2 linked regions of the Homo sapiens genome follow. The protein of the gene in region 2 interacts with the protein of the main gene of each other region in a pairwise test. Each region holds a gene or a part of one and is shown on either strand. Other genes may lie near its edges. The genes, in order: NDUFAF2 and ARMC9.

The links.
Region 1: the proteins of ARMC9 (region 2) and NDUFAF2 interact in binary tests that used the Homo sapiens proteins (3 or more experiments, as listed by UniProt).

Annotation. Positions count from the first base shown.
Region 1 is NC_000005.10:61,136,720-61,153,237, reverse strand, and holds the end of NDUFAF2 (NADH dehydrogenase [ubiquinone] 1 alpha subcomplex assembly factor 2), read right to left. Parts: intron 535-16,518; coding exon 283-534; 3' UTR 212-282; downstream 1-211. UniProt on the Homo sapiens protein: Acts as a molecular chaperone for mitochondrial complex I assembly. Complex I functions in the transfer of electrons from NADH to the respiratory chain. The immediate electron acceptor for the enzyme is believed to be ubiquinone.
Region 2 is NC_000002.12:231,199,399-231,213,391, reverse strand, and holds part of ARMC9 (lisH domain-containing protein ARMC9), read right to left. Parts: intron 7,195-13,993; 5' UTR 7,154-7,194; coding exon 7,103-7,153; intron 5,266-7,102; coding exon 5,140-5,265; intron 1-5,139. UniProt on the Homo sapiens protein: Involved in ciliogenesis. It is required for appropriate acetylation and polyglutamylation of ciliary microtubules, and regulation of cilium length. Acts as a positive regulator of hedgehog (Hh)signaling.

The sequences.
Region 1 (16,518 bases), on a different chromosome or scaffold from region 2:
TACAGGATCCTTCTCAAGGGAGTAATCCAAAGAGGGAAAAACAAATCTAAGCAAATTCATAAATAACAATGACTAAGTCAAATGAAGGATTTAAGTCTAAAAGAAGTTAGGTTTCTACAGTACATAATCTCACATTTCTTGTGCATACTAAAAATGAACTCAAGATTAATAGAATAGGAAACTATTGTACATTCAGAAAATACAAGGTAAATAACTTTTCACTTCTTTTATTTGTTAAAATAGTCACATCCATATACATGAAAAGATTTGACCATAATGCATTCATTGATTGTGGCTCTTGCCATCTCGTGGCATCCAGGATCCTGGCTGAAAGGTTTTACCAGTGCTGCTGGGAGCCACTGAGGGTTCTTCCTTTCCAAAGTATGGAGCAGAGGCATGGCCTTTAATTTGAGTTTGAACTGGTGGAGGCAGGAGTTCCTCACTGGTCTCTTTACTAAGGAGTTTTTCTTTTTCATAAAAATCTTGGCTTTTTATTTTGATTTCTTCTCTGTGTTTTTCATTCTTTAGTATTTCCTGCATGTATATATAAATGGAAGAAATTATTAAATTTCTAGTTAAAAAAAGTTTTTATAAAAATAGCCAATAAAAATAAAATACATTATATACATATAAATATATACATACATACTTTGCATTTAAATAATATACAGATATGTATATAAGTTTGAAAAAGCTGTATGATTACATACTAATGTTACATAAACAGTTCTGTCCTGATTTTATGCTATAATAGACATGAAGCACCCCACAGTAGAAATATTTACTACTCAAAAAATGAAACAAACAAATGTGAAATATTACACAGAAGCCTGAGACACTCTATGAAAGATTTCCTAAGCTTAACACTGATTTCTGCCCTAAAACTCAGTGACTGTACTTTTCCACTGGTGAGAAAGAAGTGCTCTGACTACCCTTTTTTTTTTTTCTTTGCCATTCAGATGTGTGAATGCTAACGTCACCCTCTGTAGTACCAGAACCAAGCCTCATCTATTAATATTTCCCTTTCTCTTCTGGAGTGGTATGGCAGGAAAGGAGGAGGATAGGAATGGAATCAGGGTTTGGCATGCCCTAGACACTGTTGCAGAGAGGTTCTTTGCTATTGGAAATACTTTCTCAAATCTGTGCAAACAGATTGTACAATGCAGTTCTGTTCCTCAGAATTCTATCTAGGAGGATCTATACCCAAAATTACAATCAATCCTTTGTTACTGTATTTCCTTGAATAAAAGACCATCACATTTAAGAAGCATCACTATAGCATTAAGAAAGGCAAATTCCACACATAGTTTCAGAGATATTAATATTTGAAAAGATACGTATCTTAAAAATAAATGCAATACAGTAATTACATCTTTGGTCTTTATTCATTCCTTCTGTGTTTTGTTGTTGTTGTTGTTTGTTTTGGTTTTTTTTTGTTTTTTTGAGACGGAGTTTTGCTCTTGTTGCCCAGGCTGGAGTACAATGGTGTGATCTCGGCTTACCGCAACCTCGGCTCACCGCAATCTCCACCTTCCAGGTTCAAGTGATTCTCCTGCCTCAGCCTCCCGAGTAGCTGGGATTACAGGCATGTGCCACCACACCCAGCTAATTTTGTATTTTTAGTAGAAACGGGGTTTCTCCATGTTGGTCAGGCTGGTCTCGAACTCCTGACCTCAGGTGATCTGCCCGCCTCAGCCTCCCAAAGTGCTGGGATTACAGGCATGAGCCACCACGCCTGGTCCATTCCTTCTGATTTTACAATGCATTTCTAAATGTGTGAAATTTTTTAATGTTCTTTTTGCTTACCTGTATTATCTAATTTTTAAGAATATGTTATTTGTAATGTGAAATTAGAATGTTAATGTAACTAATATCTGACAACACTGACCAAAAAAAAAAAAGTTCTGTCAAGTATTTTTAAAATTTCAAAACTTTCAAAAAATGTCACTTAAAGGGCAACATCTGGATATCTAAATGTATGATATCACCTTTCTGTTTCTCAAGTGAATTTCAAGTAATATTGATTGTATAGTCCTTTAAAAAGGTAAGCTCTGATATTAAAGTAACATTTAAAATAATAGTTTGTACTTAAAGGGGGAAAAGTTTTTGTGGTTTTAGTGTTAAGACTTAGTTTTAGATGTGAAGAAGGGCCCATCTAATGAAACTTCTCCCTCAAAGCAAATATGTGCAGGAAAGAACAATATTTATAAATATTCTTGTAATTTTCACAACACATAGCAATTCCCCATGAGTAGTTTAATCACCACAGTAAGCGAGTTCTGTATGGTTGCTCCAAGTGAGGGTGAGAGTAGAGAAATCAGGTTTTCTTCTTCCTATACCCTCTAGAATTCTTATATAAGGTGATGATGTATCACAAAGGAAATTCCTCAATATCATACTGGAAATAGTGGAAGTAGACAAAAATTCAAGTCCCTGTGTCTTAATGGAAGTTCGTTCTTTGGAGCGGAATGAAAAGTTCAGGACCAGGTTAAACTTCCACTAGTAACCGACCTCAAGCAGCAAGAGGATACTCAGAAATTGGTATGGAGCTTGCTTGGATTTTGTATAATAGATCAGTCATGTCACCTGAAGCTGTGCCCCTGCCTACTTTATTTATGTCACCTCTATAGTTGCAGTCTTACAGTTGGTACATGCATATGCTTTTTGATGAAAAGAAAATGGAGGGCAAAGATCTGTTCTTGTTTCTCCTGCCTTCACATAATTTCTCTTTATTCAACATTACTCTTCTAAGACTTTCTTATAATAGCTATTGAGGCAAAAGAAAAGCCAATCTGAATATATTAATTATTTTTATATATGAAGATGGTTAAAGATTTCAGAGTTAAAAAATATGGAGACTATAGTTTTTCCTAAAAAAGAATTTCCTTTTGTTTTTCTGAAAAAACAAAACTGGTACCAAAAACATAACTGGTACCAGGCAAAATTAAACAGAACATAAATCATTTATGAAAGGAAATACGGTCTTGTAAATATTTGGAATTGAAGGGCCAGGTTCTGTGGCTCATGCCTGTAATCCTAGCACTTTGGGAGGCCGAGGCGGGCAGATCACTTGAGGCCAAGAGTTCAACACCAGCCTGGCCAACATGGGAAAACCCTGTCTCTACTAAAAATACAAAAATTAGCTGTGCATTGTGGCACATGCCTGTAGTCCCAGCTACTCGGGAGGCTGAGAGGCAGGAGAATCACTTGAACCTGGGAGGTGGAGGTTGCAGTGAGCTGAGATTGTACCACGGCACTCCAACCTAGGTGACAGAGCAAGACTCCATCTCAAATAAAACAAAACAAAAAAACCCCCAAACAACAACAATGAAAATATTTGGAATTGATAAGAAAGTAGTTAGGTGGAGAAAACAGGATAGGAATTGTAGACCTTAAGGACTTTTAAGAAAGTCTATTTGCAAATACAAACTACCAAAAAGCAAGTATTTTTCCTTCCAATTCCTTGGAACAATATCACCCTATATCTCCATACGTTTATCAAATAACAGTATGTTTCAGTGTTTGTGTAAGGATAAAGCAGGAACGGGCATCTTTCTTCACATAAATGTTTGTATTTTAAAAACAAATATTCATCATTTTACTTATTTATCTTGTTGCCAATAAATATTTTTCTTTAACATTTAAAAAAAAGATGGCTGAATGTTATTTTATCACTAGTATTGTACCATGATTTACTTAACAACTACCTCTACTGTTGCTTCCAATATTTCACTTCTTCATTAAAAAAAATAACACTGTGGTGACAATCCACATGGGTAATTCTTTGACTCAGACAGGGTTCCAATCCCAAATCTACCATTTGCTAGCCGTGTGACACCAAGAAAGCTACTTAACTTTTTTAGTCTCAGTTTATCTGAAAATGGGGCTTATACTCATAACAGTATTATGTTTCCTAAGATAGTTATGTATTACAAGGTGAGTAAGCTTTTATAAAACAATGCCAAATGGGCCAGTGTGGTGGCTCACGACTGTAATCCCAGCGCTCTGGGAGGTCAAAGCGGGCAGATCACTTGAGGTCAGGAGTTTGATACCAGCCTGGCCAACATGGCAAAACCCTGTCTCTACTAAAAATACACAAATTAGCCAGGTGTGGTGGTGTACTCCTGTAATCCCAGCTACTCTGGAGGCTGAGGCATGAGAATCGCTTGAACCTGGGAGGTGGAGGTTGCAGTGAGCTGAGATCACGCCACTGCACTCCAGCCTGGGTGACAGAGCAAGACTCTGTCTCAAAAAATAAATGAATAAACCAACAATACCAAATGGAAGTATCTTCCTTTTGTTCCCCTTAAGTAACCTCTAGAGTTCCCTTAAAGATTGAAAAGTTTATGCAGATTACAGATTTTTCCATATTCTAATGTAAGCCAAACATTATTGATTTAAAAATTGAATCTTGTTTATATGTGACTATGTAAGTATAAATATTTATACCTCAAATTACTCATATGTATACTCTTCACATTGTTATTCACTGAATGTTTCTCAATAGTGGCATAGAATTTGGGCTCTGAAGCCAGACCACTGAATACAAATCCCAGTTTTACCATTTACCAGCTGTGTGACTCTATGAATATTATTTAACTTCCCTGTGTCTCACTTTCATGTTGTGTGAAATGGAGATAATGTTGTCTTCTTCAATGGGCTGTTGTAAAGGTTGGGAAAGAACTGGCTACTGGGCAGTGATAGTACAACAGAAGGTACAAATATATCTTAAAATAGTGATTTCATTCTATTAAAAAATAAACATAGCAAACTTGTACACATCTCTCTCTGAAATGGGTAGAGATGTTAGTAAGAGGTAATCTACTAGTTTCAGACAAAAGATGGAATAACTGGTACCAGGCTAGTCCTCCTGCCATGGCACCACTAGAAAACTGGACAAAAATACATTTTTCAGATACTGGACAATAGGCAGCACAGTAGTGTGATCCCTGAAGGGCATCAATGAGTAACAAATTAGATAAACCCTATATCATCCCAGCTTTCTGGCTGGAGACACATTACTGGTTGCTACACAGGGTGGGGGAACCCAACCAGAGGATGGTGGTTTATGGAGAGATAGAGATGGTTGTTTAGGGAGCCTGAGAAAGCTGGAATATGCTGGGATATGTTAGGCGGAGTACCAGAATACACAGAGTAAGTTTTAGAAATCTGCATAGTAACCCACTTGAGTGTTCAGCTGAATATTAAGCTGTCCATGTGCGCGGTGAAACTCCATAAAGCAGGAAGGACAACTTCTCACTAAAGAATACTGGGGAACTATAGGCTGAAAATTGCTGGAGCTTGCACTGGACTAGGAAAAAGTCAAGTTCTAACCAGCCAGGGAGAGCTCGTTGAACACCTGAGACATTGTAAAGATCCCGGAAGGGTCACTCCTTAGGTGTAGGACTAAACTGGCACGAGAGTACAGCTTATTGGAGACCTATGCTGTACAATACAGTAGGCACTAGCCACATACCATTTAAATTAAATAAAAAATTCAGTTACTGAATTATACTAGCCACATTTCAAGTATTTCATAGCCAAATATGACTAATGGCCACTATATTGGAAAGTACAGTTATAAAACATTTCCATCATTGCAAAAATTTGGATTGGACTGCACTGCTCTAGATCTACTCTAACAAAACTTAAAAGTAAGATTCTAGCCGTACGTGGTGGCTCACGCCTGTAATCCTAGCACGTTGGGAGGCTGAGGTGGGTGGATTTCTTGAGTCCAGGAGTTCATGACCAGCCTGGACAACATGGTGAAACCCTGTTGCTACAAAAAAAAAAAAAAAAAGAAAGAAAAAAAAATACAAAAATTAGCCAGGCCTGGTGGCATGCAGCTGTGGTCCCAGCTACTCGGGAGGCTGAAGTGGGAGGATCACTTGAGCCCAGGAGGTCAAAGCTGCAGTGAGCCAAGATCACACCACTGCACTCCAGCCTGGGCAACAGAGTGAGACCCTGTCTCAAAAAAAAAAGCTTCCAAAAGTTTGGGCTGGTTCACATGTCAATTAATGGCCCTCCAGAACAAAACTCAGTATTTTTTAAAGGAAGACAACACAACTGAGATACTAAACATAATATTTCAATGTTCATCATGTAATCAAGAGGTGAAGACGAAAGGATGACTAAAAACCAGTCAACAGAAGTAGACCTACACATGATAGAAATGATGAAATCAACAGACAAGGACTTTATCACAATTACTATAAAAATGTCTAAAGAATTAAAGAAAAAAAATCAACATGAGGAAAGAAATGGGAACTGTTATAAAGAACCAAATATAACTTCAAGGTGAAAAACAACCTATGAAATAAAAAAATTGAGTGCTTCTTTGTAGAAGAACAGTGAATCTGAATATAAGACAATGGAAAATACATAAACTGAAGCAAGAGAGAGTTTTAAAAAAGGGCTAAAAAATGAACAGAGCCTCAGTGAGCTATTGGACAATACTATGCAGTCTGATATACATGTGGTCATGGAAGGAGAAGAGAAAATAATGACTAAATATAAATTCACAGATCTAAGAAGCTCAACAACCCCAAGCAGGATAATCATAAAACCAAGGCACATCCAAATCAAATTGCTAAATACTAATGATAAAATCTTAAAACTAGACACAGGAAAAAAGACACTTATACAAAAGACAAAGATAAGAAATAACACTGAGTTCTCATCAGAAACAACTTAGAATCCTATATCCAGTGAAAACATCTTAAAAATGAAGGTATTATAAGAACATTTTCAGACAAAAGCTGAATTTGTCACAAATATCTACTATAAGAAAAATTAAAGGACATACTTCAACTGAAGGAAAATGATACAAGATGGAAACCTTGTAGAATAAATAGCACTGGAAATGATCAGAATGAAGGACTTCATTGCAGAGGAAAAACACCAGAGGTTTGGACACTCTGCCAGGTGCTGGATACCCTAAAACTCTACGTCCACCAAATCTAAGTTCCCTGAGCACATGAGAAGCATTGTTACACTGTCCATTGAAAATACCAATACGGATTTTGAGGCCAGTGATGACTATACTGCCAAGCAAACTTCTCAAGCTTTGTGAACCTGGTTCAGGAGACGCACAGCCTGAGACAAAAGGGCTGTTGTTACCACGTGCAGCCCTCAAATTAGCAACACTCTGCCTTATTACCTCCTTATTCCCATCAACAAAAAGTCTCTAGTCACCAAAGCTTCCATGTTTTATACCACTGTCTTGGCTCCCCTGACTAGGGATATAGAGCAGTGTATCAACAATGGCCTTCTTGTCCACCTGAAGCAGAACCTCATGGAGTTGACAATTGAGAGTCATGCATGAGGTCAACCCCTTCTAAAAGGGTCATTTAAAGAGTCTCCTGGAGTGAAATATTGAAGAATATCATTCTCCACCAATCTCAGGGAAGAAGAGAAAGAAACCATACTGACAAATTAAAAAAAGGCATGAGCTGTATCAAAATCGGTGTGTCAAAACTTTCCTTAAATGTATATGTTATGAATGACCAATGTTCTGTGAGCATCTCTCTCATTTCAGGGGTGTTCAGCTGGAGCAAATTAGTTTAGGCTTGAGTTGTTTATGTTGTTATAGGGTAAGTATCCCTTATCTGAAATGCTTAGGAACAGAAGTGTTTGGGATTTTGGAATTTTTTGGATCTTGGAATATTTGCTTTTTACTTACCAGTTAAGTATCCCCAAATCCTTTGAATGCCTTAATAGTGCTCAAAAAGTTTTGGATTTTGGAGCAATCTGGATTTCGAATTTGAGCTGCTCAACTTGCATGTATTTAATGTTTGAATTTATATATTTTTCTGGTCAAAATTTAATATAAATTATCATTGTTTGTGAAGGATTAGATTAAAAAAGAGAAAAAGCGAAAAGATCTAAATGCCTTTAACAAGCTCATCATTGTTTTTGTAATGTAGTTAATGGTTATTTATAGTGCACTATTCATTTACTCAGTGATGTGAACTTAAGCCCCCAAAAGGTTGTGGCTCAAGTCCTTTCCAATGCTGTTACTTTGCTAAGAGCCCTGGTTAAGAGCCCTTTTGGTAGCTGTATTATTGTTGCATTCAATGCTGCAACTTGCTATGTGTAGTAATGACAAAAGAGATTTAAAGTTTGTTTTTTTAAAAAACAAAGCTTAAATATGGAATCTACTAACATGCTGACTTATAGCTCACTCACAGATATTAGGCATGATATAATAAGTAGTTATTCTGCTCCAATCATACAGTCCCTCATGCAAAATCCTACTATACATTAACTTTCCATAAAGGCAAGGAATTCAGCTTTAATATACACTTACTGCTATGGAAGTTATTAGATAACATGCGTGGATATTTGAATTATAAAGAGGAGGTAAAACAAATGGTAGAAAAATACTAGAGGTCTCTGCAATGATGTGTTGGGAGAGAGAAAGAAAACTAAAGCTATTTAAACCTGGGCTTTGGAAATGCACTCTAATATCTGAGGGAAGGCTAAGAGCTGATGACCAGTGCTCTCTGATGAAGTTATCATGACTGGAAGATAAGTTTAGATTACTTGATGAGTATTGGGGAAAGGGAAGGGCTGAGAGATATCTGAATAGGTTCAAAGGTTACCCAAAGAGTTTTCAACCTCAGGTATCCACCATTCTGCTTCTCTGGAGCCACACTCAGACCAGAGGTGTGGGAGTGAACATTCCTCAGTCTATACTATTAAATGGAATCAAATATTTAGATGCAGATCTAAGTATATATACAAAATATTTTTTAGGAATATTATCTGTTATTATACATATACTTAACAAGAAAAGGTAAATACAAATTATGCAAATTATAAATTACCCATTTTTATTAATTTAAGATATGTAAAATGTCACTAGTATTTTTTATGTTGTGTGTAATGTGTGTATAAATAAAAATGAATAACTGTTTTCAAACCATCATTCAAGATTTCAATCCCTTAGCCCAATTTTTCTCCTTAAAAGGCTCAAACCTAGTCAACTGAGAATTCTTCTATGAAGGAGTGTTTCAGTAATACCTTATATGTACATATATATGATGCTGATGGTGTAATATTCATGGTAAGCATAAAATTCCATAATAATAGACTTCAAAAGTATTTGAATAATTTTTATATTGATAGACATGGAAATGGAATAGAGTTAATGCTCAGCCCTTTATTAGGGAATTAGAACTTTGCTTTAAAAATGTTATGAATCCAGGTAGAAAAAAGGCAGGTTGAACACACACACACACACACACACACACACACACACACACACACACACACAAAAATATGCCATTTCATCTTTAATGTTCTGGCTCCAGGCTCCTCTAAAGTTTAGTATTTATAAATGGTCTCCATTTAGCTTCAAGTACTTGTGAATTCCAAGTATATCATATATAACTATGTTCAAACTGAAGTTCAAAACACATGCCAAGACAAAATCTAAATATAATTTAAAATAAATTCAACAGTGCTTCATTGTTAGAAAGTTCACTATTTTCAAGAGCAAGTTAAGGCTCAGGAGTCAGTCTTAGGCCCATGTAACTGGGTTCTTTTTCAGTCTTCTGTGGGAACAAAACCATAGCTTATTTATGAAGTTCAAGTTATATTACATATAAAAAATGAGAAACCGGATTTATAAAAAGTTATAATTTAAAATTATACATTAGCGGTACATTTGTGACAAAAGCTAAATGTACATATATCTTTAATATCTATTGGAGCTAGACATACTTTTCAAAGTACACATAAGATAAAGATGTAAAAGTATTTCAATTACTAAATATACCCAAATGCATACATTTTTTACTGCTTACCAGACATAAATTTGACCTTGACAGCTCCACTAATTTCTTTCCATAATTTAAACCATATATACTAGTGAATAATTTTTATTTTAATAAATATTAAAATTTTTAAAGTATGAGTACATTGCCTTTGAGTCAATTAAAATGTTTTTCATAGACTACAAAACGATTTATGTAGATTATAAGTGAAATTTGGCATGAAGTATGTTTTGGGACCCCATACCAGTAACATTTGTTTACTATTAGATAGTCATGCCCAGAAAGTAGCCTCCCAGAATATACCACACAGCCCCCAATCCTCAATATAATTATAAAATTATAATGGGAATTTGTTGTTTCAAAACGTTCAGAGTTGAATATTCTTTTACAGTGTTAATTTTGTAACATGCTGAGAAACAATTCAAGCCTAGCAAATGCTATAGTGATGTCTCAGCTCGAATTTTATTGCCAAGTTGTTTAATTAAACTACATTTTCTAGTTCTACAAGTTGAACTGCCAGGATGAAATAAGTTATTAGATCACCCTTTTTCATCTACGAAAGAAAGAAGAAAAAAGAGGGAGGTGCATAGATCACCAAAAGGTATTCTGTATTTAGGCCCAAGAGAACACCTGCTAGATCAGTAATCAAAAATAAATTTAATCTTGCCTGGATGGGAGTAGAAACCCAAAGAGTAAATAAGTGACAGAGCTTAGGTTAGTATGATAGTACTGGGTTGCTAAGAAATCTATTAGAATAAAACAAGAGGCAAGTGAGTTATGCTTTAGCAGAAGCTGCTCCTGCTACATGTTCTTGCCAATCACTAGTACGCCTCTGCCAAATCAATGTCACATTTAATTTATTCAAATTCAAATCTATTGCAAACATCCTTTGATCAATTACAATAATGAGAATGTACACTGAGTTTTGTTGTTTTGACATGCTTTCTTGAACCTTCCTCATGCATTTTTTCAAAACATTTCTAATTGCAAGAAGGCTATCTCAATGATTCCTGTTATTTGAGGGGACAATTGTATGGTTTGTTTATATTCTTTGCTGGCTAGGAATTTCTGGCATTAAGTTTTCTTTCTTTGAACCTGAGCCAGATTAATTATTAAATCTCAAAATGTCACTAAAATGAACTAATCACAGAGCTCAAGTCATTAACAGTTTTTCAGGTGGTATTTCCTTTACTAAAATAAATGAACTCCCATATATACGCAAAAAGGGCCTCTAAGCATAAAGACACAATTATTTAATTGAAAAAGAAATTTAGCAGTTAAACATTAATAAAAAATAATTAGAGTCACTTAATGCTAGTCCTATTTAATTGAACTACCCTGGTGGGAGACAAAGAAAACCTTGCTCCCTTGTGTGGGAAGAGGAAAGACCATAATCCCTGGGAGAAAAAGCAATGTCAGATCCCCATGGCTTTCCAGGCTTGGCCTCAGAGAGAGAGAAAGAAATGGCAGAAAGGCAAGAGCCCTGGAGGAAAGAAAAGGCTCCATCTGTGAATGATTGCTAACATTCATTGAGCTGTTATGTGCCAGCTGCTGTCGGGGGAAAAGAATTCTTCTGGCCTAGGATGAGAGAGGGAAGAAGAGTTGGATGAGAAGAAGTAAGACATAAAGAAGCTACAACTTAGGCTATATAGAGCCTGCCCTAGAGAATAAAAAATATGGTCAGAGGCAGCACCCTCTAGGACTTGTTGCAGGGGACAACAGGAGCTGTGGCCCTGAAAGATATACTTATTCATTCATGTGTTTTTCATTCATTCATTCATTCATTCATTCATTTAATATATACTGAGCACCTACAATTTAAGGGCCTAGGGATACAGAGATTAAAACCTAGTTCCTATTCTTATGAAGCATCTTTGAGGAACAAAGAGGATGGTCAAAGGAGGTACCATAGGGAAGAGCTGGGTAAGCTCCAATGGCCAATTATGTGGCTAATGCTTATGGGTCCTTTCCTACTTTCCCATTCACTAACTGATTGGTTCATGCATATATTAACTGAGAGCCCACTAAGTGCCAAGGATTGAGTTAAAAGACACAACTTTTACCCTGTGCTCAAAGAACTCACAATCTAAGGAAGAGAGGCAGGTTTAAAAAAATTAAATTATAATATGATAAATTCTGCAATCATATAAAACAAAGAATGTTATGAGAATGCAGAAGAAAAGCTAGTGTCCCAATTATTATTATTATTATTAATTAATTTTTTTTTTTTTGAGACGGAGTTTCGCTGTTTTTGCCCAGGCTGGAGTGCAATGGTGTGATCTTGGCTCACTTTAACCTCCGCCTCCCAGGTTCAAGTGATTCTCCTGCCTCAGCCTTCAGAGTAGCTGGGATTACAGGCATGTGCCACCACGTCCGGCTAATTTTGTATTTTTAGTAGAGAGGGGGTTTCTCCATGTTGGTCAGCCTGGTCTCCAACTCCTATCTCAGGTGATCCGCCCGCCTTGGCCTCCCAAAGTGCTGGGATTACAGGCGTGAGCCACCACACCCAGCCCTGGTGTCCCAGTTATTATCCAGAGTGGACTGGAGGGTTAGAGAAGGTGATACTTCAGTATTAAACAATCAATCAGAATCAACCAGAGAACTAAGAAGAGAGGGGCATTCTAGGAAAAAGTAAGCATGTGATCAGAGGTATGAAGGAGTAAAGCAGCAAAGCAAATTCAGGACACTGAGTGGTTCATATGGTATACAGGGGTTAGAACATGCTGAATCTTGTAATGCAGTGTTAGGATATTTAGGTTTCACCCTGAAAGTGATGGTGAAACATTTTTGGGCTCTGAAGGAAGAGCAAGATTTCCAGATAAAATGCAGGATGCTCAGTTAAATTTGAATTTCATACAAACATCAAATAATTTAGTATTTATGTCCTAAAAATTATATGGGACATACATGTAAAATTATCCCTTGTTCATCTGAAATTAAAATTTAACTGGGTATGCTGTATTTTTGTTTGCTAAATCTGGCAACCATAAGCAGGAGACTTATATGTTTATCCCATATTTTAAAAAAGATGACTCTGGCAACTATAGAAATTAGATTGGAGAGGTGCAAGACTGGAACAGAGAAATCGGATAGCAGGCCACTGCAGAAATGCAAGTAAGAAAATCATTAGGGCAGGAACCAAGACAATGGTATTGAGACAGACAAAAAAAGATTGTTAAGATATTCAATAGGAAAAAGGTCTTAGTCACCAATATGTAGAGGTGAAGGAGATGAGGACAATCCCTGTTTCTAATCAGTGATGACAGTGACACTTTGCAAGCTGAGGAACTCTGGCTGGCGATGCCCTGCCCAGGCCTTGCTTGACCACGCTACCTGCTGCAGGAGACAGCCCACCTACTCGGCCCACTTGGGCCAAGTCTGGCTTACACACTGGTTCCTGAGTTCTTGTCCTGCACCTAAGAAGAATGAGGATGTGCTAACATTCGAAGAGTGTACAAGGCAGGGAGTTTTCCTGAGTGATGAAACAGCTTTCAGTGGAGAGGGGATGTAGGGGTGGTCCCCCTATCCGAAAGTGGGAAAGTACCCCTAATATGGCTGAGTCAGGAGCCTTTTATGGGCTCAGAATGGGAAAGGGACAGGCTGTAGGGAGTATTGGAAAAGGCAACATTCAATTGTTAAAAGGCATTATTCAAAAAAAATTAATCAGGAAAGGGCAGGCAAACAGGAACATAAGTTCTCACTCTGGGTTGCAGGTTTCATCTGGGACCAGCAGCCTGGTCTTTCAGCCTCCAGGCTGTTTTTGGCTTGAAGGTGGGGTTTCACCAGGGACCCGCCCCTATTAGCCTAGGCATTTGGCTGCCTCCTGTCGCTATCAACAGATAATGCCATTAACCATGGTAGGAAACAGAAAAAGAGTTCTGCTTTAAACATACCAAATTTAAGTTGTCTGTAAAATATCCAAATATCTTTTTATCAAACTGTTAGCTCCTTCTTGGCCAAACTTCAGAACACTGAAATGCTTCAAGGACTCAATTCTAGCCCTCTTTTTTACTATACAGACGGTCCCTGACTTACAATGATTCAACTTATGACAGTGCAAAAGCGACATGCCTTCAGTTGAAACTGTATTTTCAAATTCTGAATTCTGATCTCTTCCCAGGCTAGTGATATGCCATACAATACCTTCTCATCATGCTAGGTGGTGGCATTGAGCAGCAGCTCCCAGTCATCACTTTGATCACAAGGGTAGACAATCCACACTCTACAGTGTACTGTGTTACTAGATGATTTTGCCCAACTGCAGGCTAATGTAAGTGTCCTGAGCAGGTTTAAGGTCGACTAGGCTAAGCTATGAATTTGGTAAGTTAGGTGTATTAAATGTATTTTTGATTTAACAATGGGTTTATCGGGATATAACCTCATGGTAAGTTAAGGAGTATCTGTATTCTCTCTCAAAGTAATCATTTCTTATCCCAAGTTTAAATATTGTCTACATATGCTGAAGAAGCTCAAATTCATTTCAAGCCTGACTGCTCCCCAAGCTCCAGAATAATATAGCCAACTATCTGGGTGGAGGTGGATGTCTAACAAACATGTTAAATTAAATATGTCCAAAGATGCCTTAGGCTCAGAGGGCTAACTTAAGGCCATACAATTAGACTACACTTGAAACAAGTTTCTGCCTCCACCATATTTTCCTTCTACTACTTATTACTCTTTGCACAGTTCTCAGCAAGCCACACACATGGCTTTGCATACAGGTATCCTGCTGCCTGACTACAGTGTTTCCCTGACCCCTAGAAGGTTTGCCTTGTTTCAATAGGGCCTGGTCTCCCTTTCCTCACATGCTAAGATAAAAGCAAGCTCCAAGGCAACACCCTACTTCATGAACATAGAGAGGAGCCTTCCAGCTAACCGGAAGTCCTAAAAGTTAATTACTATACTCTCAAAGTAGTCTCTGTGACATATCAAATGCACACCAGTGGGCACGATCTGGGGGGGAGGAGGCTGTTACTGGGATGTCCTCATGGTGGGAAGAAGCACTTTAGCCAGCAGCAGCTAAATCACCTTCCCTTACGCAACTGTATACATTTACTTAAATGATTCCTATTTTTCTTTACCTCCTACATTTACCTAGCACTAAATTTTATCAATTCTTCCTTCAAAATTTATCTTGAATTGTGCATTTCTCTTTATCTCTATGGCCAATAGCATTTCTTGCTTGGACTCCTAATAAGTCTCCTTGGTCCTCTATGATCTAATGTCCACATAGAAATCAGAGTGACCTTTCATGCCACTTCTCACTAACAACCCTTTAAATGGGTCCTTGCAACAAAATCCAAACTTGCCTGTGGCAAATATGGAGATATTTGGATAAGCCCTTCTTCAAGGAAGGACTTGCTTCCCAGCTGCAGTGAATGCTGTGAGCAGACAGTCTGCAGCTGTCAACAATTTTAGCATGTGCCACAGCTTGTAGCCACCTTTCTAATGGTTTTCCAGAGCAGCCCACATCCAGTAACTGAATAAGGCAGGCAGGCAGGGCCATAAAGGCCCAGCTATTTCAACCAGATGTACAAAGACTCTGATGGGCAATACTTGCTCCAGAGCTTCCTACTAAATTGGCTGAAGCTTTGTTGGGCCTACATCACATTTCGACTTTGTCCTCTGTCCATTCCTATTTTCTTCCTCTTCCTTTCATAAGGATGCCTAATAAATACCTTTTATCTCAATGTCTGCTTCTGAAGAACACAACAAGGCTCCAAATGACCCAATTGCTGCCGACCTCTCCAATCTCATTTCATGTCATTTTCTGCTTTGGTTATTATACTTCAACCTCACTAGCTTCTTTGTTCTTTAAACACACTGTATTTCACTTGGCCTCTTTTAGCTCTCTGCTGGAAAGTCTTTTTCTTTCAGTTCTTCACATGGCTAGCTAAATCTCATACTTCAGGGAAGACCAATAACTTAAAGAGAACTTCCCTGGCTAATCTATGTAAAGTGATCTTTCCAACCAGACATAAGAACAACACCCAGTTTACTTTGTAGCACTTATCATATCTCATAATCCTTATTATTTATGTATTTGTTTATATGGCTTGACTAGAATATAAACTCCAAGGGCCAGGAATATGTATAGTTCACTGTTAACATTCCAGGCATCAAGTTTAGCATATTATGTAAGTGTTGAAAAATAATTTGTTGAATGAATAAATGACTCCATGGGTCTAGCTCAAGAGAGAGGCCAGTGCTGGAAATCTGGAAGTATATGTAGTGGCTGAAGCCAAGACAAGGATGAGATTGTCCAGAGAAATAGTAGAGAAGAAGAGCCAAAGGTCAAGAACAGATACTTCATGTGGACCACCAAAATTTAAGAGGTAAGGGAAAAACAGGAACCAACAACATGTTGAGAAAGAATGGTCTAGAAAGTGAGGGGATAATAAAAACGGCATTGGTAAAAGTAGTAAATATTGATGCCTCATCCATATTCTCTCAGCTTACTCTGTAGCTTTCTAAATAGCTTATTTAGATGAAGCTTGTTTCTTACTTCAAACTTCTGCAGTTCTTGGTCTGAGGACCATATTCACCTTATATAATGGGCAGGATGAAAATACCAGGGAGTTATTAACACTCCCCAGGAGTGAGCCTTAGTGAGAAATTGGTGGATAAATACCCCAGCTTCCTTGCTCTTCAATGGAACAACTCTGTGATGTGTTCCGCAGTCTCTCAGAGGGCTGCTGGCAAAACTGAGCTCGTTTGCCCACAGCATTTAACCAGCTTA
Region 2 (13,993 bases):
AGGAGCTCAAGACGAGCCTGGACAACATGGTGAAACCCTGTCTCTACAAAAAGTACAAAAATTAGCTGGGTGTGGTGACATGTGCCTGTAGTCCCAGCTACCCGGGAGGCTGAGGTGGGAGGACCATCTGAGCCTTGGAGGTAGAGGCTGCACTGAGCTGAGATCCCACCACTGGATTTCAGCCTAAGCAACAGAATGAGACCCTGTCTCAGAAAAAAAAAAAAAAAGAAAAAACGTTTACAGATAATTTTCCTGCATAATTGTCATTTTTAAAAATTACTTGTTTTATCTGTTTATAAGCAAATTTTCTAACATAAAATGGAAATGTATAGAGAACAAATAATGTAACAGTGTTTGGTTACACATAAGTCAAAGATGTTGATTGGTAAGGAATCCTCAAATCTGAATATTACAAAAATTTCACTATGTCATGTAATCAAGAACTGTCTCTGAATACTGCCTTACGCTGGAAGGTGCCAGTTACATTTCAAGTAAACTCAGAATTTTTCAAATAAGCCCTACAATGAGCATCTACCTCCTCAAGGCTGGCTCTTCTGTTCCTCCCGGACACAGGCGAGGGACAGTGTGTTAGCGCCTGTGGGTGAGGGTTGCCAAAACAAAGCACAAGCAGCTGAATGCAGGCACCCCTTGGAAGAATTTGGGGAAGCTGACCAGAGACCTGCATGCTTGTTAATGACTGCCACAAAGGTGAAGGGATCCTCCCAGGGGCAGTGCTGTGGGGCCAGGCTCAGCCCCATGCTTGCCTCTGCCAAGGTCCCAAGCAAACCCAGTGCCCATTCCTGAGGGGGCCTTGCCATGAGAAGTGCGGTGACCAAGAGCTCTCTGACTGTGTGGATGAGGTGAGCGCAGACTCTTGTGAAACGTTATGGCTTAAAGAAAAGTTATTTTATCAATGTGGCTTGGCAGAGTCCACAAGTCAAATGGCCCATCTACAGTTTGTTCTAAGGTCTATATTTGTAGACCTGAAACCACAAACCTTTGCTATGTCATTACAATCACATCTATCATTCTTCCTAACTCATGAATCACATTCTGTACCTGGAAATGGTCCCTGAGCTTAAAATAATACCCACACATAAAAGAATCTGCTATTATAACTTACAGTCACAAAATATTAGTGATGTTCTATAAACCATGATCAAAGCAGAATCAACAAGATGAGAAAATGTGTACACCATCAATAGTAACTTGTAGACACACACGCTTCTTATATCTCACAACAATGTAAACATACGTAACACTACTGAACTATACACATAAAACTGCTTGGGGAAACTCACTATTTTTTGAGTTCCACTAACAATTAGCATATTTTGCTGAACCTCAGTTCTACATATTTTTTTTATTTTTCTTTCTAAATTTTTTCCCCACTCTTCTTCATTCAACCCAGGCATTTTTCATTTGGGAAATCTACCATAGTGGGGGACACAGCTGTTGACTGGATGAGCAGAAAAGATATGCTTGTGACAATCAGAAAGTTTCAAGGTCTTTGAAGTTATATAAAAATAGACCTGAAGACATCAGAGAAATACAAATCAAAACTATGACAAGATATCACTTCAAACCCATCAAAATGGTGAATATTTTAAAAACACACAGAGAAAATAACAAGCATTGGCAAGGATGTAGAGAAACTGGAACGCTTATGTACTGCTGGTGGGAATGGAAAATAGTATAACCACTTTGTAAAACAGCTTGGCAATTCCTCAAAAAATTAAAAATAGAACTACCATATGATCCAGCAATACTTCTGGGTATACATCCAAAAGAACAGAAAGCAAGGCCTTAAAGAGATACTTGCACACCCACGTTCACTGCAGCACTATTTTTTTTTTTTTGAGACAAAGTCTCACTTTTTTACCCCAGGCTGGAGTGCAATGGTGTGATCTTGGCTCACTGCAACCTCTGCCTCCCAGGTTCAAGTGATTCTCCTGCCTCAGCCTCCCAAGTAGCTGGGATTACAGGTGCCTGCCACTATGCCCCGCTAATTTTTGTATTTTTTTTTTTTTTTTAGTAGAGGCGGGGTTTCACCATGTTGGTCAGGCTGGGCTTGAACTCCTGACCTCAGGTGATCTGCCCACCTCGGCCTCCCAAAGTGCTGGGATTACAGGCATGAGCCACCACGCCCAGCCCCAACAGCACTATTCTTAATAGCCAAGAGGTGGAAGCAACCCAAGTGTCCATCAACAGAAGAACAGATAAACTGTGGGGGTGTGTGTGTGTGTGTGTGTGTATGTGTTTGTGAATATATATCACAGATTATTATTCAGCCTTTAAAAGGAAAGGAAATCTTGTCATACATTGCAACATGAATGAACTTTGACGACATTATGCTGAGTGAAATAAGCCAATTACAGAAAGACGAATACTGCATAATTCCATTTATATGACATATCTAAAGTAGCCAATTCATAGACAGAAAGTAGAATAGTGGCTGCCAAGGCCTAGGGGGAGGATAAAGGCGGAGTTGTTAAATGGGGACAGAGTTTCAGGTTTGTAAGATGAAAAATTCTAGAGATCTGTTTCACAACAATGTGAACACATTTAACACTACTGAACTGTACACATAAGAATAGTTAACATGATACATTTTATGTTATCTTTAATCACAATTTTTTAAAAAGACCTAAAGAGACATTTGAGTGTTCTCAGATGCAGCTGGAGCTGAAATGCGATGGCAAACCAGTTGCGGAAAGTGTACAGCAGCCACCTCTGGAGGGACCGATATGCAAAGAAGCTTCAAGGCACAGGGCCTGTTGGCCTTACCCTGTATCATCACATCATCTGGTCATGTGTGAACTTCACAAAAGAGTCTCACTGTTCTGCTAGTTAGGTATTGAGGATTTGCTATATTCCTCTCAAATGGTAGCTTTAATTAAGAGATGCTCACCTATACTTCCAACGTGTAGGGTAAAGGTCTTTCTTCATCCAGAAAGAACCAGGGAAGCCAGGTGCTGGGGAGTGAAGCTGATTTCCTGAGGAACACACTTCACTCTAAGAACCTGTTTTCACCTCTACTAATGACTATATTCTTTTATGTTCTGAACATATCGTTCTAGGTGTGGGGGGTGCCAGGGAGGTCTGGCTGCTGTAGCATCCACAGAAGAGTCTGTGTTGACAGGAAGCAGCAGCAGCTCAGCATCCAGGGGCCAGAGGCCTGAAGCGGAGCAGGCAGAGGGTTCAGCCCTGCCTTGAGCTCCACGGGCCACTTCAAAAGTGCCCCTCTCTCAACAGCGCCCATGCCAGGCCACTGGGGAGTCAAGGACTAGGAGAAAACCAGCAGTGAATACCACTTGAACTCCAGCCACTCAAGGGGCTTGCAAGCCAAGCCTAAAATTATTTCTGGAAGTAGGTATGTTAAAATTTAAAAATCTGTTAAAATAATAAGGCCAGGTGCAGTGGCTCATGCCTATAATCCCAGTGCTTTGGGAGGTTGAGGCAGGAAGATCACTTGAGATTGGGAGTTTGAGACCAGCCTGGGAAACACAGCAAGACCCTGTCTCCACATAATTTTTTTTAATTATAAAAATAAAATAGACCAGGTGTGGTGGCCACATCTGTAATCCCAGCACTTTGGAAGGCTGAGGCGGGTGGATCACCAAAGGTCAGGAGTTTGAGACCAGCCTGGCCAACCTGGTGAAACCCTATCTCCAATAAAAATACTAAAACCAGCTGGGCATGATGGTGTGTGCCTGTAATCCCAGCTACTTGGGAGGCTGAGGCAGGAGAATCGCTTGAACCCAGGAGGCGGGGGTTGCAGTAAGCCAAGATCCTGCCACTGCACTCCAGCCTGGGCAACAGAGCGCAACTCCGTCTCAAATACATAAATAAATAATAAAATCATCCAAATGTGAAACATGCTGTCTCAGGAAATGGTACAGTCTCTAGTCAATGGAAATATTCTAGGTGAACTGATTACTTACCTGGCATATTACAAATGAGATTTAGACATCAAATAATGGTTAAAATAATGACTTTTTAATTTTTTTGGAGACAGGGTCTCACTCTGTCACTACAGCTGGAGTGCAGCAGTATGATCATGGCTCAATGCAGCCTTGATTTCCCAGGCTCAAGTGATCCTCCTACCTCAGCCACCTAAGTAGCTGGGACTACAGGTGCATGCCACCATGCTCGGCCAATTTTTTATTTTTTATAGAAACGAGGTTCTGGCTGGGCATGGTGGCTCACATCTGTAACCTCAGCACTTTTGGGAGGCCAAGGCGGGCGGATCACTTGAGGTCAGGAGTTCAAGACTAGCCTGGCCAATGTAGTGAAACCCCGTCTCTACTAAAAATACAAAAATTAGCCAGACGCAGTAGCACGTGCCTGTAATCCTAGCTACTAGGGAGGGTGAGGCAGGAGAATCGCTTGAATCCTGGAGGCAGAGGTGGTGATGAGCCGAGATCGTACCACCGCACTCCAGCCTGGGCGACAGAGCGAGAGACTCCATCTCAAAAAAAAAGAAAAAGAAACGAGGTCCTACTGTGTTGCACAGGCTGGTCTTGAACTCCTGGGTTTATGCGGTCCTCCTGCCTCAGCCTCCCAAAGTGCTGGGATTACAGGATTCAGCCACCATGCCTAGTCAAGGATTTTTAAGGTCCCTTCTAACCCTGAGAGTTGAGGTCTGTATAACCTCTGTGCCCCTGCAGCCCACTGGTATTCACAGAGCTATTCAGACTTCCTTTCACAGACCCGCCTTGTCAGTCTCACTCTTGCTCCCTGTTCCCTCCAACCTCCCCAAGCTAGAATGCAAATGCTGTGCTGGCAAGGGGCTGGATTTTGTTTGTTCACTGCTGGATCCCCAGTGCCTAGAATTAATAACCTGAAACTCCTCAGGAGGAAGGCTACAATTGTCTCAGTTCCTAAACACTGCATGGTTTCTTCTTTTCCTTCTTCCCAAGAAATGTTTGTGAAAGATCTTATATGGCCACACATTTCCTGGGGAGGGTACAGAGATTTAAAATGACATTATTAGTTCATCTATAAACACTTGTGCCATCTAAAGTAACTCTGAGCAAGTGCTCAAAAACTATTCTAGCACTATCCAACAGCAGCATTTTCCACAAGTTGGGAGCATCCTGAATTATCTACAGGGATGAAAAATAAGCAAAATGTTACCTGAATTGTCAATGATTTGGAGTCTCTGAAAGATCCGCCTACTGTTTTACACAATGGTTTTCCTTTTATTTTGCATTCTTTTGAAAATGTTTTCAAGGTGTCTTCAAATTCAGCAAAATCTAAATACTATAAAAAATAAATAATTCAATTCAACAGCAAAACAAACAAATAATCCAATTAAAAAACAGCCAAAGGATCTGAATAGATATTTATCCAAAGAAGACATTAAAAAGACCAACAGATACATGAAAAGGTGCTTAACATCACTAACAATCAGAGAAATGCAAATCAAAACCACAGAGACCTAATTACCTCACACCTGTCAGAATGGCTATTACAAAAAAGACGAAAGATAAAAAGTCTTGGCAAGGATGTGGAGAAAAGGAAACACTTGTGCACTCTTGGTGAGACTGTAAATTGGTACGGCCATTATAGAAAACTGTATGGAGGTTCCTCAAAAAAATAAAAATAGAACTACCGGCCAGGAGCCGTGACTCAAGCCTGTAATCCCAGCACTTTGGGAGGCCAAGGCGGGTGGATCACGAGGTCAGGAATTCGAGACCAGCCTGGCCAGCAAGGTGAAACCCCGTCTCTACTGAAAATACAAAAATTAGCCAGGCGCAGTGGCGCGTGCCTGTAGTCCCAGCTACTCGGGAGGCTGAGGCAGGAGAATCGCTTGAGCCCAGGAGGTGGAGGTTGCAGTGAGCAGAGAAAGCACCACTGTACTCCTGCCTGGGCGACAGAGTGAGACTCCATCTCAAAAAAAAAGAAAAAAAAAAGAAAAAATGGTATAGGCCAGGTGGCATGGCTCATGCCTGTAATCCCAACACTTTGGGAGGCTGAGGTAGGAGGATCGCTTGAGCCTAGGACTTTGAGACCAGCCTGGGCAACAAAGCGAGACCCCATCTCAAATAAATAAATTTTTAAAAGAAAATGTGTTATATAGGTAGGGTGCAGTGGCTCATGCCTGCAATCCCACAACTTTGGGAGGCTGAGGCAGGAGGATTGCTTGAAGCCAAGAGTTCAAGACCAGCTTGGACAACAGAGTGAGATCCTATCTCTACAAAAATTAGAATAAAACCTAGCTGAGCATGGTGGTGCACGTCTGTAGTCTCAGCTACCCAGGAGGCTGAGGCAGGCAGATTGCTTGAGCCCAGGAGTTCAAGGCTACAGTGAACCATGATGATGCCACTGCACTCCAGCCTAGGCGGCAGAACAAGACCTTGTCTCTAAAAAGATTTTTAAATGTAAATTTTTTAAAAAAGAATATATTCGCCATCACACCACCAAATTCCAAATCTGCAGTTGCACGGTGGGTGCCTCATCCCTGCTCCAGGCCCGTGGCTCTCGCAACCTGCAGGTGGTTACTCACACAGTTAAGCAGCAGCAAGCGCGAACCATTTCTTTAGCACCAGAAAGTTTAAGGCCTGGGCCCTACTTGTCAAAGCTTTTAGCGTAGGAAACCTAGGCCATTACCAGACAATGAGTTAAAAAAATTATGATGCAGCCACTCAATGAAATACTCTATGGCATTCAAATGTCTAGGGCCGATCATAGGCAGATGTTCATGCTATATTATTGTTGGCAGATAAAAAGCAAGCTACAGAACAATGTATCATCCCATTCTGTAAAACAAACTACAGGCATGTGAATATATTTTTACTATACATAGAAAAAAGTCTGGGAGGGAAATTTCCTTTTTATACTTCTGTAGTGCTTGAATCTTTTACCGTGGACGTGTATTGCTTTTATAATTTTCTTTCAAGGGACTTTTTAAGTGGCTTTAAGATTTGTTTAGTTATAAAACCAAAATGTAAATACATGGAATATTATATAATAGAAAAATAGCTCCAACATAACAATAGAAGAAACATTACAAGGCACTAAATAGTTTGTTGCATTTTAAAACACAAGTTTTCAAGATCTGTTTCTCTGTGACCTCTGCTTTGTATAATATACCTACCTCTTTCACTAGTCCAAGTAATTCAGATTCATGAGCCAGAATGTCCCCCATATTGAACTGTTACTGGTAATTAATTCTCACAGCAAAAATCTCTAGAAGGCAAAAATACAAGACAACAGCTTTCATTTCAACCACCTATGAAACTACAAAAAGGTGGTTGTGGTGAGCAGAATAATGGCCCCCAAAGACATCCATGCGCCAATCCCCAGAACCTGTGAATACGTGAGGTTACACGGCAAGGGGGAATTAAGGTGCAGATGGAATTAAGGTTGCTCATCAGCTGACCTTTAAATTGGGGGATGATCCTGGATTACCCAGGTGGGCCCAAGGCAGTCACAGCAGAGGGAGGGGGGCAGACGGAGGCAAGAGGGTCAGTGCCAGCATGATGAGATGTGAGAAAGACTCAACAGCCACTGCAGGCTTTAAAGGGGATAAAGTGGCATAAGACAAGGAGGGTAAGGAGCCTCTAAAAACTGCATAAGGCAAGGAATAGATCCTCCCACTGCATCCAGAAATGATCCAGCACTGCAGACACCTTGACTTCAGCTCAGTGAAAGCCATTTCAGACTTCTGACCTCCAGAACTAGAAGATATTAAATCTTTGTTGCTTGACACCACTCAGTTTATGGTCATTTGTTCAGCGGCACTAGGAAATACAATGGCTAAAGTCAAAAGAAACTCTTCCTACTCTTTCTACTAGCCCTCCCTCAAGGTGTACCCAAAGCAGTCATTCCCCATGGCCCACACCCCAGGCTCAGCCCAAAGCAGTTGCCCGTAACCCCAGAGGAATGAAAAGGTCTGGGCTCTAATGTTAACCATGCCATTCACTGGCACCTGATCTGAGACAACTCACTGAAGTGCAGAGCCTTTCTTCATCTATAAAATTCAGAATGTGTCAGAACTCATCGAATTTTTTTTTTGAGATGGGATCTCACTCCGTTGCCCAGGATGGAGTGCAATGGTGCAATCATAGCTCACTGCAAGCTAAAACTCCTGGGTTCAAGGGATCCTCCCTCCTCAGCCTCCCCAGTGGCTAGAACTATAGGTGCATGCCACCATACCCAGGTAATTTTTTTTTTTTTTTTTTTAAGTAGAGACAGGGAGACAGGGTCTTACTAAGCTGCCAAACTCCTGGGTAATGCAATCCTCCCGCCTTGGCCTCCCAAAATGCTGGGATTATAGGCGTGAGCCACCACACTCAGTCAGATCTCTTCTGAGTCTGTAACCTTACATTTTTCTGCCACTGCCTCCCCACCTCCTTTCTCTCCACTTCAATCCAATTTCTACACTTTTAACAAGTGAGCATTCCCCTCCTGCTTGGGACCCTCCTGTGGTTCCAGCGCCCTCCAGATGAAGGCCAGGCTCCTTAGGCTCAACTCCCAAAGCCCTAGACAACTTGGCCTCTGACACACTCCCATTTGTTCTGTAAACCTGAGCCACACTGGCCACTGTGTGGTTCCTGTGGACACCCACTGAACACCCAAAGCACACGCCTGCCCTCGTGAACTCTGGCTCACTGCCCTTCCTTCAGATACGTCTCATTCAGGTCTCTGCCTAACTGTCACCTCCTCAGAGAGTCTTGCCCTGACCACCCTTTCTAAGAGGTCGGCCCATCACTTCTCAGCCCTTTGTACTGCTTGATTTTTCTCAACAGCACCTGACAGGTGTTCCCCTGTGCCTAGACCAGTGCCTGGCACACAGTACAGGCTCAAAAACATGGACGGAGTGGAAATTGATTCCAGACATGAAGAAAACAGCGCAAGGAAAGGGACAGAACCTGAAGGAGACGGGTATGGGGTTATTTTAGATAGAGTGGTTGATGGCCTCACTGGGAATGTGACATTTCAGCAAAGATTGAGCACCTGGATCTGGGGAAGATGGCTTTGTTAGTGCACAGGCCTCAGGCTGAAGAGCTCTGCAGTCTTGGGGTATTGGGATGTAGCTAGGGGTGAGGCAGACAGCAGCAGGCAATGGGGGGCCGGGGCCAGGTCAGGTGGGCCTTACAGAGCTGGTAAGTGGCTTGGACATTAGGCTGACAGTAACAGGAGGCTCAGAGAGAGTATGGAGGAGGGGACTGACACCACTGATGTCCTTTTTTTTTTTTTTTTTTTTTCCTGAGACAGAGTTTCCCTCTGTTGCCCAGGCTAGAGTGCAGTGACATGATCATAGCTCACTGCAGCCTCAAACTCCTGGACTCAAGCAGTCCTCCCACCTCAGCCTCCTGAGTAGCTGGGCCTACAGAGTGTGCCACTATGCCCCAAGTCTTTTGTTTTCTGGTTTTTTCATTTGTTTGGTTTTTGGTGAGGTTTTTTTTTGTTTGTTTGTTTTTGAGACAGAGTCTCGCTGTTGTTGCTTGGGCTGGAGTAGAATGGCACAATCTTGGCTCACTGCAACCTCCACCTCCGGGGTTCCAGCAATTCTCCTGCTTCAGCCTCCCGAGTAGCTGGGATTACAGGCACCCGCCACCATGCCTAGCTAATTTTTGTATTTTTAGTAGAGACGGGGTTTTACCACGTTGGCCAGGCTGGTCTCGAACTCCTGACCTCAGGTGATCCACCTGCCTCGGCCTCCCAAAGTGCTGGGATTACAGGCATGAGCCACCACGCCCAGCCTTGGTTTTTTCAGAGACAGGATTTCACCATTGCTCAGGCTGGTCTTGAACTCCTGGGCTCAATCCTCCCTCCTCTGCCTCCCAAAGTGCTGGGATTACAGGGGTGAGCCACCACGCCCGGCTGCTGATGTCCATTTTTTAATATGCATGTTGCCTGCTCTACAGAGAAGACTGGAGGGGAGTGGGAAGAGGGAGATGAGTACTGCTCAGGCCACGCCAGCCATGAGCATCATTTGGATAAGCAAGAGGGGCCATGAGCGCTGTGAGTCCAGATGGAAAAGGCAGAAGAGGCACAATCTGCAGACCAGTTAGTTGTGGGACATGAGGGGAAGAAGGGAAGGAAGAACCCTGGGATCTGAGCAGCTGGCCGAAGAGTATGTGATTTGCTGAGTCAACGAAAACCTGGGGAAGGACTGTTTTGAGGTCAAACCAAGAGCTCTGTTTTGGCTATAAGTCTGAGCTGCCTGTTAGACATTCCAGTGGAGGTTCCGAAATGGTCAGTGGGTATTGTAAGAACCAAAGAAAGAGGAGAGAGGAGAGAAACACGAAGGGTGGCTCGACAGTCAACAGGTTTATTTCAAACCTGGGAGGGACTTCCGACCGAGTTAGGTCAGAGCCACACTCTCCTACAGACTAAGAGTTTTTAAGGATTCAGGGTGGGAGAGTTTATCAAAGGCTTGAACTGTTTCTGTGTCTCTCTGTTGTGCTTATCTGGGAGGGAGAGTTGTGTGTCTGTTCCTATACAACTTTCTGCAGCTGCAGGCATACCCCCCAAGTCTGCTTTTAGCTTCCCTTAGTGCACCTGAAGGGAACAGAATGTCCTTATTAAGGCCCACTGTTATACTGAGGCCCATTGTAAGAGGGTGAAGTTTGGCCGTTACCCAGGAAACAAACCTGTTGACTGTCAAGTCACCCTTCGTGTTTCTCTCCTCTTTCTTTAATTCTTACAGATATATGAGCCTGGAGTTTAAGGGAGAAGCAGGAACGGCATTCAGAGGGATAGCAGAGAATATGGGTGCTGAGCAAAGACACAGATTTAGTGATTAGAAGTGAAACAGGCTGGGTGCAGTGGCTCACACCTGTAATCTTGGCACTTTGGGACACCAAGGCAGGCAGATCACTTGAGCTCATGAGTTCGAGACCAGCCTGGGCAACGTGGTGAAACCTCATCTCTACAGAAATACAAAAATTAGCTGGGTGTGGTGGTGTGTGCCTGTAATCCCAGCTACTGGGGAGGATGAGACAGGAGGATCACTTGAACCAGGAAGGTCAAGGCTGTAGTGAGCCGGGATCACGCCATGGCACTCCAGCCTAGGTGACAAAGTAAGACCCTGTCTCAAAAAAAAAAAAAAAAAAAAAGTGAAACAAGAAACAAGATCAGCTGGGCACGGTGGCTCACGCCTGTAATCCCAGCACTTTGGGAGGCCAAGGCAGGCAGATCGCCTGATGCTGGGAGTTCAAGACCAGCCTGACCAGCATGGTAAAACCCCATCTCTACTAAAAATACAAAAATTAGCCGGGTGTGGTGGCAGGCACCTGTAATCCCAGCTACTCTGGAAGCTGAGGCAGGAGAATCGCTTGAACCCAGGAAGTGGAGGTTGCAATGAGCCGAGATCGTGCCATTGCACTCCATCCTGGGCAACAGAGTGAGACTCTGTCAAAAAAAAAAAAAAAAGAAAGAAAGAAAAAAGGTCATCGGCTGCAAGTAAGAAGCATGGTGACAGTTCGAAGAGAAGGGAGAGTGGGAACGGAAGGGAGGGTGGGAACCAAAGCGACTACAGCAACATGGCAGGGTTGCTGGTATTATAGTCCATTTAAGATCTCTGCACTTGAATCTAAAATGGAATCAGTCTGCACAGTTTTGCAGCTCTTCTCCAGGCACTTTCAGCTATCTGAGTTAGGTTAACCAATGTGAGAGGTTCTTCTAGAAGAGAGAGGAAAGGGAAAACAGTACAACCACGATGGGACACTGGAACTAATCAGGTTAAGAATGGGGGAGGGGAACACACATAAGGCGGCTGCAGAGCAGTGAGGAAGCAGTGGGGTCTGAGACCTGCTGAAGGAGGCACATTCCAGTGAGTGTGAAAGATGGAAAGGAGTGGGCAGAGAGTGGGACAGATGCCTGAAGGCAAGACTTTGAAGGTGACTAGTACTAAAAAGCTCCCGACCACGGGAGTGGGCAGATGAGGAGGATGGAGGAAAGAGACGCCTGCAAGTAAGGAGGATGAAGAAACTGGAGGGGCCAGGATGTGGAAACCCCCAAAAGTGAAGTAAAAGAGATGAAGGGATAGGCAGCCAGCCGGGTGCTGGAGGCTCCAAGGGAACTGGAGAGACTTGCCCTGGGAAGTGGCTACCTCAGGGAGGGCTGGCAAGGGGTATGGCATCTGCCATGTGCTTCAAAGGAGCTGGGGTTTGTGAAGGAGTGGGTAGTGATCTGGAAGCAGTAATGAGGAGCAGGGAGGACACCTCCCCATGCACCACACCAGCCCTGCCAGATGCAAAAGGGGAGAGAAGAAAGGCAGCTGCTCCTGGGGGACACCCACCTCTCCAGCCTTTTTCTGGACCATGCCTCCAATCCATCCACCTCCCCCTACCTGATCCCTCTCCTTGCTCCCTTCCACCAATCCCACACTGGACCCTGCCAACAGCGAACTCCTGGCCATTCCCCCATGCAACAAGCTCTTCCAGGATCCTAAGCCTGTGGTTGATGTATGCTCTGCCCCCCCAGGCAAACATGACTCATGATTCTAAGCCAAGCCAGATTTAATCTCTTTTCAAGAAGTCTTCCATGAAAAACCCCTCCCTTCTTTCCCTACCAAGGCTTTTTTTTTTTTTTCTTTTTCTGAGATGGAGTTTAGCTCTGTTGCCCAGGCTGGAGTGCAGTGGCGGGATCTCGGCTCACTGCAACCTCCACCTCCTGGGTTCAAGTGATTCTCCCACCTCAGCCTCCCAAGTAGCTGGGGTTATAGGCATGCGCCATGACGCCCAGCTAATTTTGTTGTTTTGAGATGGAGTTTCACTTTTGCCGCCCAGGCTGGAGTGCAAAGGTGCAATCTGGCTCACTGCAACCTCTGCCTCCCAGGTTCAAGTGATTCTCCTGCCTCAGCCTCCCAAGTATATGGGATTACAGGCGTCCGCCACCAACGCCCAGCTAATTTTTGTATTTTTAGTAGAGACAGGGTTTCACCAGGTTGGCCAGGCTGGTCTTGAACTCCTGACCTCAAGCGATTCACCCACCCAAAGTGCAGGGATTACAGGCATGAGCCACTGCACCTGGCACTTCTTATAACCCTGTTCACAAAGACAGGGAGCTGTATTTCAACTTCATATCCCCAGAACCTAACAGAGTGTCTAGTAAGCAAGAAAGGTACTCAAGGCATATAATGAATAAATGAAGCCGGAGCTGAGGGGATGTCATTTTAAAGGCCCTGGAACGGGAAAAGTGAGTTTCTGAGAATTTGAAACCTTGAGGCCAACCTCAAGGCCTTTGCGCATATTACTCTCTCCGCCTAGAACACTCTTCCCTCTCTTCACCTGGTTAACCACTGTGCCTAATAAACATCACCTCCTTAGAGTAGACCTCCCTAAGCCGTTTAAATAGTATCTGCTGTGATCAACTGTCATTGAATGTGAGTGCTGCTGGGTATCCTATTACTCAACATTCTTAGAAATTACAGAATTGGCCAGGCACAGTGGCTCACACCTGTAATCCCAACACTTTGGGAGGCTGAGGCAGGCGGATCACCTGAGGTCAGGAGTTCGAGACCAGCCTGATCAACATGGTGGAACCCCATCTCTACTAAAAATACAAAAATTAGCCGGGCGTGGTGGCGTCTGCACCTGTAATCCCAGCTACCAGGGAGGCTGAGGCAAGAGAATCGCTTGAACCCAGGAGGTGGAGGTTGCAGTGAGCCGAGATCATGCCACTCCACTCCAGCCTGAGCGACAGGGAAAGACTCCGTCTCAAAAAAAGGAAAAGAAAAAGAAATTACAGAATTTTCTCTAAACTTTTATATCATAATAGGTATCATTTATTGAAGGTATATGGTATGCCAGGCAATGTGCAAAATGTTTTACATTTAACCTTCATAGTAAACCTGACAGGTGAATATAGTTTATATTTTCCCATTCCAGATGAGGCAATTTGAGGCCCAGGAAGTCTGACACACTCCCAACAGCCACAGTAAGTGACTAAGCGGCTGAAAAGAACCACTACACAGTATTTCCCAAAGTCTGGACCACCTAAATCAGAATCAGCTGGCACGCTTGTGCAAATGAAA